Regions from separate parts of the Homo sapiens genome. Here region 2 is linked to region 1. The links come from fine-mapping of genetic effects on gene expression. A gene starts in region 1. The other region holds a variant in brackets. All regions are shown on one strand. Distances are between the middles of the regions.

What was found.
Region 2: its variant is fine-mapped to the expression of PSMD8 in tibial nerve (GTEx, PIP 0.91).

Annotation. Positions count from the first base shown.
Region 1 is chr19:38,371,259-38,376,627 of GRCh38, reverse strand. It overlaps PSMD8 (proteasome 26S subunit, non-ATPase 8), which reads right to left and starts at 2,057. Exons shown (of 7, transcript NM_002812.5): 1 at 1,667-2,057; 2 at 396-468; 3 at 174-276. The coding sequence starts at 2,026. RefSeq lists enhancers at 1,748-1,887, 1,518-2,148.
Region 2 is chr19:38,314,924-38,320,260 of GRCh38, reverse strand. YIF1B (Yip1 interacting factor homolog B, membrane trafficking protein) reads left to right here and starts at 4,314. Exons shown (of 8, transcript NM_001039672.3): 1 at 4,314-4,401. The coding sequence starts at 4,344. It overlaps KCNK6 (potassium two pore domain channel subfamily K member 6), which reads right to left and starts at 416. Exons shown (of 3, transcript NM_004823.3): 1 at 1-416. The coding sequence starts at 310. RefSeq lists silencers at 234-323, 3,990-4,479 and an enhancer at 1-588. The variant G/A (reference allele first, on the strand shown) is at 3,088.

The sequences.
Region 1 (5,369 bases):
TCAAGCCAAGTCTCAGGACCTCCAAGCCAAGCCCTGACCCTGCACCACTGAGGAGAGAACTAAGCCAGGAGGAGTTCCCAGATGAAGGAAGAGGACCCAAGCAGCCAGAGCTCCAGAAATAAAGGAGCTTCCATGCAACCACCCCCCCAGTTGGGGGCAGGGCCCATTCTCACTTGTAATCAAAGTAGTAGCATTTGAGCTGGGCCATGTAGCGCTCGAAGGAGGGGATGTCCTTGCGTAGGATGCTCCATTGGGCCCCGATCTCCAGTATGTCACCTGTGGGTGACAGAGTGAGCTCTCAGGAGGTGACTGAGGTCTCTTCCCCAACCACCAGTGCTACCATTCCTGCCATGACCCCCAGATTATCACCCCCAACCAACCCCAGTGACACTCACGGGCCAGAATTAGCTGCTGTTTGGTCAGCTTGGTCCCTGTGGTTGGCAAGAAGTTGAGCTCCAGAAGAACTAGCTGATGGGGAGGGGAGGGAGGGAAGAAAGAAAAGAAGGGAATTCAAATACAGATGACTTACCTGCTCTACGCTCTGGTCTTCCCACTTGGAAAATGGAGCTAACCATCATCCAGACTCATGAGGAATGCTTTCTCATAAAGCACTCAGAACAGGGCCTGAGCACGCAACACATGCCCATTTAAGATTACATCACATTACAATTATTAATAGCCCCACTGGGGAAACAAGGAGGGACACTCAGTGCCTGACCCAGTGGAATCACGCGGCGGTGGGGACAGGAGTACATTCCATTCTTGGCCCATCTTCCCCACAATCTATTGGGGAAGGGGTAGCTGGGCTATCCCCAAAATCTATATCTGGGAGGGGGAGGTCCAAATCTCCCCCCACAGTTCAGCCCATACATCTTTCCTTAGCAGGCTCAGCAGCTTGTTCCAAGCCACTGGATTTACACTCCCTCCCAACAGATGTTTGGTCTGAAGCACTCTGGGCCCCGTATTCTTGTTCTCTACTTGTAAGAATATTTCTTCTAGGTTCAGTCCTGCCTTCACAACTAGGCTGCCCCCTCTCCCAACAGATGCGAGCCTAAGCCCCAGATCTCTCAGATCCTAACCCAGCCTGGTCTTAACCACACACCCTCTACACAGCCCACCTTTTCAGCCTCATTCTTTTATCACTCCGGGCAGTCCTCACTTCCCACTTGGTCTTGCCTGGAATCCACCATCAGGAAAAGCCCGAATCCCAATCCTGCCACTCCGACCAGTTAAGCCTCCACGCACCAAAAATCTAACCCCTCACTCAGTTCTGCCATAAGTCTTCCAATCATTCCCCCACCACCCCCGCGTGGGTCCATTCCAGTCATCTCTCACTTAAAAAAAAAATGTAGAGACAGAGTCTCGCTATGTTGCTCAGGCTGATCTTGAACTCCTGGGCTCAAGCGACGCTCCCCCGCCTCGGCCTCCCAAAGCGCTGCGATTACAGGCGTGACCATCAACGCTCCCTGTCCCTCTCTCGCTTCTTGACGCCCTCCGAGCCCCCACTTTGGCTGTTCCAAATCTTTCACCCCATCGGATCCCCCAGCCCGCCTCAGTCTCGCTGGCACCGAGGTGGCTTCCGCGGCCCGGGACTTGGTTGGGTCCAGACACCTCGTAGCGCCTCCCACGCCCGCAACACTCGGTTTCCTGGGCCTGCCGACTTTACCTTGAGTCGACCCAGCTCTTCCCCGCACTTGCTAAGATTGGGGCTTTTACGGTTCCACTCGCCCTTGAGTTGCTCGTACATGCCGGTCGCGGCCTGCAGAACAGCGCCCGAGGTTGCCGCGGGCCCGGAGCTCGAGAAGCCTGCCGCCCCGTTCACCGCCGCGGCCGCCATCTTGCGTGATGCGGCAAGCAGACCGCCTGATTTACGGCAGCGCCGCCTACAAACGCTTGCCCGGCGGAAGTGGGGCCGAGAGGTGGAGCCCAAGGCCCGGGGCGGGGCTACAACCTGCCTCAGCCCGCCCCGGGTAGCCCGCCGTCGCTCTCGAGGTGGCGCCCTCGGAGCCCTGCCCTTAATGAACATGTCAGTTGGAGCTCCGCCTCTGTCGTCACTCAAGATGGTGACCGGAAGTTGGCTTTTGCCCTAACTGAAAATGACAGCTGTCTCAACACCACCCCCCCTACCCACCTCACGGTTCCAATAATGAACATGGCTGCCCTGGCTTCAGTCTGAGTGCTCGGGACGCTACGTAGCTGTCCTGGAGGTTCCGCCTTCGGGGCAGCGTCTCCAAGCCAAAAGGTAGCGGGTGTCGTGCCATTTGGAGAGCTGTGTTATTCTCATTTTATAGACAGACTGAGAGGCTGGGTAACCTTCCAAAGGACTAACAGCTAGGATGTGTACCTGGGGCTCCCTCTCCAGTCTTTTTCAATGCATCCTTCCACATTTTTTTCCCAAGCTTATATGAACTAACTAGTTACAAAACTCATCCAGCTCTATGGCTTTCAATGTCATGTGTAAGTGGAGGATTCACAATTTTTTTTTTTTGAGACGGAGTTTAGCTCTTGTTGTCCAGGCTGGAGTGCAATGGAGCAATCTTGGCTCACTGCATCCTCCGCCTCCTGGGTACAAGTGATTCTTCTGCCCCAGCTTCCCAAGTAGCTGGGATTACAAGCATGTGCCACCACGCCTGGCTAATTTTCGTATTTTTAGTAGAGACGTAATTTTAGTATTTTTAGTAGATGTTGGTCAGGCTGGTCTCCAACTCCTGAACTCAGGCGATTCCCTGGGCCCTGGCCTCCCGAAATGCTGGGATTACAGGCATGAGCCACCTTGCCTGGCCAGTATTCACAACTTCTTATACCAACTTCTTCCTCCACTGATTGATATTACATCTGCACATTCAACATCGCTTTTTCTCTCTTTTTAAAAAAAATTAAATTTTTTATAGAGACAGAGTCTCATTATACTGCCCAGGCTGGTCTCGAACTCCTGAGCTCAAGCGATATTCCTGCCTTGACCTCGCAAAGTGTTGGGATTAGAGGTGTGAGCCACTGCGCCTGGGCAGCACGTTTTTCTCAAACCCGACTTTCACTCTCCGTCTCCACCATTTAGAATGTCATCTCCATGAAGGCAGGACGATTTCCTTCACTACTGAATTCCCAGTATCTCAGTGCTTGGCAAATATTAGTAGACAGTCAATAAATATTTGTTGGCCAGGCATGGTGGCTCATGCCTGTAATCCCAGCACTTTGGGAAGCCGAGGCAGATAGATCACTTGAGGTCAGGAGTTCGAGACCAACCTGGCCAACATGGCGAAACCCCATCTGTACTGCAAATACCAAAAAAAAAAAACAAAAAAACCAGCTGTGCGTGGTGGCACACACCTGTAATCCCAGATACTCAGGAGCCCGAGGCAGGAGAATCGCTTAAACCCAGGAGGTCAGCTTGTAGTGAGCTGAGATTGTGCCGCTGCACTCCAGCCTGGGTGACAGAGTGAGACTCTGTCTCAGAGAAAATAAATAAATAAATGTAAAAATACCAAAAATTTGCCGGGCGTGGTGGTGCACATCTGTAGTACAGCTACTTGGGAGGCTGAGGCAGGAGAAGCACTTGAACCCGGGAGGCAGAGGTTGCAGTGAACTGAGATCGCCATTGCACTCCTGCCTGGGTGACAGAGCGAGACTGTGCTCAAAAAAAAAAAAAGAAAAAAGAAAAAAAGAAAAAGAAAGAAATTATATATGTGTTGAATTAATGAGTAAATTAATATGTGAAAGAAGTTGTGGTGGTAAAAAATGTTTTAAACAAAAATGATGGCCGGGTGTGGTGGCTCAAGTCTGTAATCTCAGCACTTTGGGAGGCTGAAGTGGATGGATCACCTGAGGTCAGGAGTTTGAGACCAGCCTAGCCAACATGGTGAAACTCCGTCTCTACTATACAAAAAATTATCTATCCAGGTATGGTGGCGGGTGCCTGCAATCCCAGTTACTCACTCGGGAGGCTGAGGCAGGAGAATCACTTGAACTTGGGAGGTGGAGGTTGCAGTGAGCCAAGATCGCACCATTGCACTCCAGCCTAGGCAACGAGCAAAACTCCATCTCAAAAAAAAAAAGAAAAAGACACAAATAAACAAAATACCACGTTGATATGGCCAGGCCAGGTGGCTCATGCCTGTAATCCCAGCACTTCGGGAGGCTGAGGCGGGCAGATCACGAGGTCAGGAGATGGAGACCAGTCTGGCTAACACAGTGAAACCCCGTCTCTACTAAAAATACAAAAAATTAGCCGGGCATAGTGGCATGCGTCTGTAGTCCCAGCTACTCAGGAGGCTGAGGCAGGAGAATCGCTCGAACCCAGGAGGCGGAGGTTGCAGTGAGCCGAGATCACACCACTGCACTCCAGCCTGGGTAACAGAGCGAGACTCCATCTCAAAAAACATAAATAGTTTCAAGTATGAGGGGAAATCCAGTCTCTGTCACTCTATCTTGGCTGGAAGTGCAGATGGTGATATTTAAATAACATGTTGACTTGGCTGATACAGGATTATGATGTGTTCACCTGGACCATGAGGTGACTCGGTAGAATCTTGGTGGTGGAAACAACCTTAGCCAGCAGCCCTTACACACATGAGTGTTGCCAACTCTTGTTATTGTCAAATTTCATCAGGTTTTTGTGCTACCAACCATGCCTAGTCAATGCCAACCCCAATGTATTCCTCCAACCCAACACTCTGGGTGAGCACCAACTAGGTGCAATCTCATACCTTTCCTCATTCGCTCCTTCATTCATTCATCTATTAATGCTGACCAAATGCCTACCATGCAACAGGGTATTTTTTTACTCATTTATTTCCTCCTGCCTTCATTCCTCCATCTTGTCAATTCATTGGTCACTACGCATCCATCCAGATTATGGACTGTATAACTAGCCTCAGATGGTGAGGGGAGTTGTCCTGAGGTCAGAGACTGCACTCTGAGGAGGACAGAGAAGAAAAAACTACAGAGAAATGAAGGCTGAATCCTGTGGACCTTGGGACTTTGGATCAAACTGTACCTGAAGCCTGTAAATTACCATTTTCATGTAGACCATTTGAGGGAAATATTTGCTACTTGCAACTAAAATAAGAATCCTGACGTCTCCAGGGTCCCCTCCTTAAGACATTAGATAGGTGTTGACATTCAGAATATTTAACACTGAACAATCAGAACAGATGGTCGGCCATAGCAATGGGCCTGGATTGTGGAGGATCCTGCTGGACCACAGGGAGGTCTGGGGTACACTGGGGAGAGGCTCAGCCAACAGGCACACAGAGAAGCCACTATTTAACAGGTGGCCTAGAAGGTTTTTGATATTTTATTTATTGTTTTGTTTTGTTGAGTCGGAGTCTTGGTCTGTTGCCCAGACTGGAGTGCAGTGGCGCAATCTTGGC
Region 2 (5,337 bases), 56 kb after region 1:
TCAGCGTGCTGGCGAAGAAGAGAGCAGAGGCGAAGTCCCAGGCGGGGTCCGAGGCGTTGGCGGACCCCGAAGCGTTAGCAAGCACGACCCGCCCCAGCCGTCCGGCCGCCAGCACTCGCTCCACGAAGGCGTCCAGGGCGGGGGCAGCCACACACGGGCTGCGCTGAAGCAGCTGCGCCCGCAGCGTCTCCAGCTCGGCTCGGAGCCTGGCTTCGTGCGGCCCCTCCAGCCGCGCCACCAACAGCGCGCCCAGCACCAGGTACGCGGCGTACGCGGCCAAGGCGCCCGCCAGAAGCGCGCCCCTCCGCATGGCACCCACCGGGACCCCGCGAGCCCTGGGTGGCCCCGCTGACGTGGCCCCCGCCTCCGGACCGTCTGGCACCTAGTTCCAGTTCCGGGAGTGCTACAGGCGCGGCAGCAGATGCCCCAAGAGGAAGAGGAAAAAGGGGAGGTGGGGGGCGGCGACGGAGGAATGCCCCGCCTCCGGGAAACTGAGGCACGCCCAACCGCCAGGTGTTCGTTCGGAGAGGGTGGAGCCCAGTGCTCCCAGACCCAGCAGACCAACGGGATGGAAAGGGTGGAGGTAGTCCTCTCTTCCCCTCATTCCTTCCTTCTCGTCCTCCTGGAAGGCTGGTTCTCTATGTTAGAAGAATCTGAACTTTCCTCTCTGCTCGCAGGCCGAGGAGTCGCCCCCCATCGCGCACAGCAGCTAAGGTTGTGCACTGCATCAGGGCGCGCGGCTGACGGAGCAAGGGGCAAACTGAAATCCAATTCTCGCTCCATTCGCCAAGTTGTGAGCCTCGGAGTGGGAACAGCGGACACCACAGAGTCAGGTGTCCCCTGTGCCCGTGTGGACAGAGTGGGGATCCTCAGCTACTCACCAAAGCTTTGTTCAATGCCCACTTTCTGCTGACCCCTCGCTGGATGATCCTGGAGACTCAGTAATGATGAGACCATCCTGCGCCATGCATTCATGGGGCTCCCAGTCTAACTGGGAGACTGACACAAGAGTGACCCACGCCTGTTGTCCCAGCTACTCGGGAGGCTGAGGTCGGAGGATTGCTTGAGCCCAGGAGTTCGAGGCTGCAGTGAGCTATGCCTGGGAGAGAGTGAGACCCTATCTCTAAAAAAAAGAAAAAAGACAGCCCAGAGTGGTCAGGGCTGTGATGAGGGAAGCAAGGGTACAATGATCAAGCCTGGAATCAGGGAGCCCTAGAGGGCCCTGGGAGTCCAGAGGAAGCAACCACCCCTGCCTAGGGAGGTCAAGAGAGCTTCCTGAGGAAGGGGCTAGCTGAGCTGAAGCATGAAGGATGAATGGAAACAAGCCAGGCAGAATCACAAATACACGCCTCTATTTAAGAGGAAATTTTTCTTTCTGCGCCCCCCCGTAAGTCTCTCCACTTCTGCCTCCAGCCAGAACTCAGCGCCTTCCTGACAGCCTTTTGGAGGGCAGCCCAGAGTCCTAACCCCATCCGACTGGCAGAGGAGTGGGGCTTGGGGCTCAGCTCAGACATGTCCCAGCTGGTTCTATTAAAGAGCTGGCAGATCACCGGGCAGAGCCCAACTTGGGGTTGACAATCCAGAAGCAGAGGCACCTGATAATAGAATCAGTAACACAATAGGTGCCAGTGATCGAAGGCTTACATTCTGCCAGGCCCTGTGGACACCTGAACTTGCACTGAATTCTCAACCCCGTCCCAATATAATTCCCACTAAACAGATGAGAAAATTTAGGCTTAAAAATGAAGTAGTCATTTGAGACCAGCTCGGGCAACATGGCAAAACCCCATCTCGACAAAAAATACAAAAATTAGCCAAGTGTGGTGGCATGCGTCTGTAGTCCCAGCTACTCGGGAGGCTGAGGCAGGAGGATCGTTTGAGCTCAGGAATTAGAGACTGCAATGAGTTATGGTCGCACCACTGCACTCCAGTATGGGTGATAGAGTAGACCCTGCCTCAAAAAAATAAAAAGTAGTAGTCACACAACTGGTAAGGGGTGAACATGAGGCCAGCAGGAAGCCAATGAACTAATGAACTTGCTTTTTTTTTTTTTTTTTTTTTTTTTTTGAGACAAGAGTCTCGCTCTGTCTCCCAGGCTGGAGTGCAATGGCACAATCTCGGCTCGCTGCAACCTCTGCCTCCTGGGTTCAAGCAATTCTCCTGCCTCAGCCTCCTAAGTAGCTGGAATTATAGATGCCCGCCACAACACCCAGCTAATTTTTGTATTTTAAGTAGAGACAGGGTTTCGCCATGTTGGCAAGGATGGTCTCAAACTGACCTCAGGTGATCTGCCCGCCTTGGCCTCCCAAAGTGCTGGGATTACAGGCGTGATCCGCTGCACTTGGCAGTACTTGCTTTATTAATTAAATATATATACATAAGGCTGGGTGCGGTGTTTCATGCCTGTAATCTCAGTGCTTTGGGAGGCCAAGGCAGGTGGATCACCTGAGGTCAGGAGTTCGAGACCAGCCTGGCCAACATGGCGAAACCCTGTCTCTACTAAAAATACAAAAAATTAGCCAGGTGCGATGGCACACGCCTGTAATCTCAGCTATCGGGAGGCTGAAGCAGGAGAATCACTTGAACCCAGGAGGCAAAGGTTGCAGTGAGCCGAGATCGCATCACTGCACTCCAGCCTGGGCGACAGAGCAAGACTCCATCTCAAAAAACAAACAAAAAAGCAATAAGAAAAAAAAAAACATTTATGGAAGAGATGTATCTGGAGCAACCAGAGCAAGAGAGGGCTGAGGATGAGGAGAAAATGGTGTTGGAGCCCAGGGGACAGAGGCTAAATCAGAGGTGAAGAAGAATGCGGGCATTTCGCTCACAAAAAGGAACCACAGTGGAGCCAGCACTCATCACTGAGAAACCAGGAGCAGCCCTTAAGGTCTCCAAAAAGACAACGTCTCAGAGGAGGAAGAGGAAGCCACAGCGATAGGGTCACTTGCTGACATCCTTCCGGATGCGCTATCGCTGCGCAGAAGTAACTTCCACCACTATGTTTTCCTGAGATAAGTCGGGGAGTCTGAGAGGGAGAGAAGGGGGGAGACTGAGAGTCAGAGAGAGGAGAGACTAAGGACGCTAGGT[G/A]GGCAGGGCTCTTCACTTGCAGGTGCGCCTGTGTGCTGTGAGTTGCTGGGGGTTGTAGAATGCTTTTGGTGGACAGAGGGAACCAGGTTGCAATGTGAGAACATTTTTATGAATTTCTGGGAAACTGCCTTAAGATCTATTCCAAGAGAGACACCTGGTTCTTCTCACCTAACTTGTTGGGTTTCCTTTTCTCACTCTAAATATTCACTTTAAGGCCGGGCACTGTGGCTCATGTCTGTAATCCTAATGCTTTAGGAGGCTGAAGCAGGAGGATGGCTTGAGCCCAGGAATTCGAGACCAGCCTGGGCAACATAGCAAGATCCTGTTTTGACAAAAAATTTAAAAATTAGCTGGGCATGGTGGTGCATGCCTGTGGTGCCAGTTACTGGGGAGGCTGAGGCAGGAGGATCACTTGAGCTCAGGGGGTCCGAGGCAGCCTGGAAAACAGAGGAAGACCCTGTCTCAAAATAAATAAATATTTACTTTAATACCTAAGGGATGTCAAAAATTGTATAAGCCCCTACAACTCCAATTAGCCCCTCAGGAACACAAATGTTTCTCTTTTCCTTGCTCCACAGCCTTTTCTGGCTCTCCAGTGCTCTCAATGACCCAAACTGAACGGCTGTCTGCAGAGAACTGCATTTCCCATCGACCTTTTCGCTCGATATTTACATTTTAAAAAATGTTTTGTAGCGATGGAGATCTCGCTGTTGCCCAGGCTGGTCTCGAACTCCTGGGCTCAAGCGATCCTCAGCCTTCCAAAGTGCTGAGATTACAGGCGTTAAGCCACTGAGCCTGGCTAAATTAAAAAAAAAAAAAATTGTAGGGATGGGGCGGGGCGAGGGTCACTATGTTGCTCAGGCTAGTCTCGAATCCCTGGGCTGAAGCAATCCTCCCGCCTCGGCCTCCCAAAGTGCTGGAGTTAGGGGCGTGAGCCCCGGCAAGGGGCAGACACTCATTTTCTGTCGTGGCAGACACCGCCTCCTCCTGGGATTGGTCCCGGCCTCGCCCTCCTGCCACTCAGGCCTTGACTCGCTTTACTGCATGAGCCCAGTAGCCCAGTCTCCGCCTCTTACGTAAGGCACCGCCCAGTCGTCCAGGCCTCCGTGAAGGGGGGGGCTGGAGGGGTCGGGGGGGTGGGGGCGAGGCCTTCCCTCAATCCTGACGTCCATTGGCTGTCTCTTCGCCGGCGGGGCGTGGGTACGGGAGCCGGGCGGGCACGCTCCGAACCGCGGCTTAGGTGGCGGCGGCGAAGGATGCACCCGGCAGGCTTGGCGGCGGCGGCTGCGGGGACGCCCCGGCTGCGTAAGTGGCGTACGTGGCCGGCGGAGGAGATCGGGCGGGCGGGGGCGTGGCGGGGCGGCCGCGTCGGTTGGCGAGGTCACTGCAGGTCAGAGGTCACGAGATCAAGGATCTGGAACCCTGAGGTGTGCACAGCGCTGGGATGCCAGGTTCGGGTAGGAGGCCCCTTGGGGGGCGATTCTTTAGGAAATTCCTTTAGAAGAAAACAACTTGGGACTGGATAGCGTGCGATATGCAGAGAAATGCAACTTTCATTCATTTGCAGTTAGCGATCCGCCCTTCCCTGCTCCCCACCCTTCCGTGGCTCCCCAGTACCCGCCTGCTGTCGCCCACACCCTTAGGACAGCTTCGTGGCCCCCCGGGAGCGCAGAGGGCCATGCCTACCGCTCATTTAAGAAGCGAACCTGTATTGTGCTGTTGGCCCCCTTTTCCTGTCTCTTCATCTCCGTGAGTGTGCTGTGTGTTTCATTTATTCATTCAACCTAACTTGTCTCAACTCCCATGTGTCAGGCCCTGTGTTGGGATGGAGATGTTGTGGGAGCCCTGAGGAGGCACATGACCCAGCCTAGGGGTGTCAGTGAAGCTTCCTGGAAGAGGATACTTCTTTTTCTTTTTTTTTTTTTTTTGAGACCTAGTTTTGTTCTTGTTGCCAAGGCTGGAGTGCAATGGCGCGATCTCAGGTCACCGCAACCTCCGCCTCCCGGGTTCAAGCGATTCTCCTGCCTCAGCCTCCCAAGTAGCTGGGATTACAGGCGCAGGCCACCACGCCCGGGGTGGTATAGACGGGGTTTCTCCATGTTGGTCAAGCTGGTCTCAAACTCCCGACCTCAGGTGATCCGCCCGCCTAGGCCTCCCAAAGTGCTGGGATTACAGGCGTGAGCCACCGCACCCGGCATGGAAGAGGATAATTCTGATCATGAAAAGTTACCCAGGAGAAGGAGATTTGTA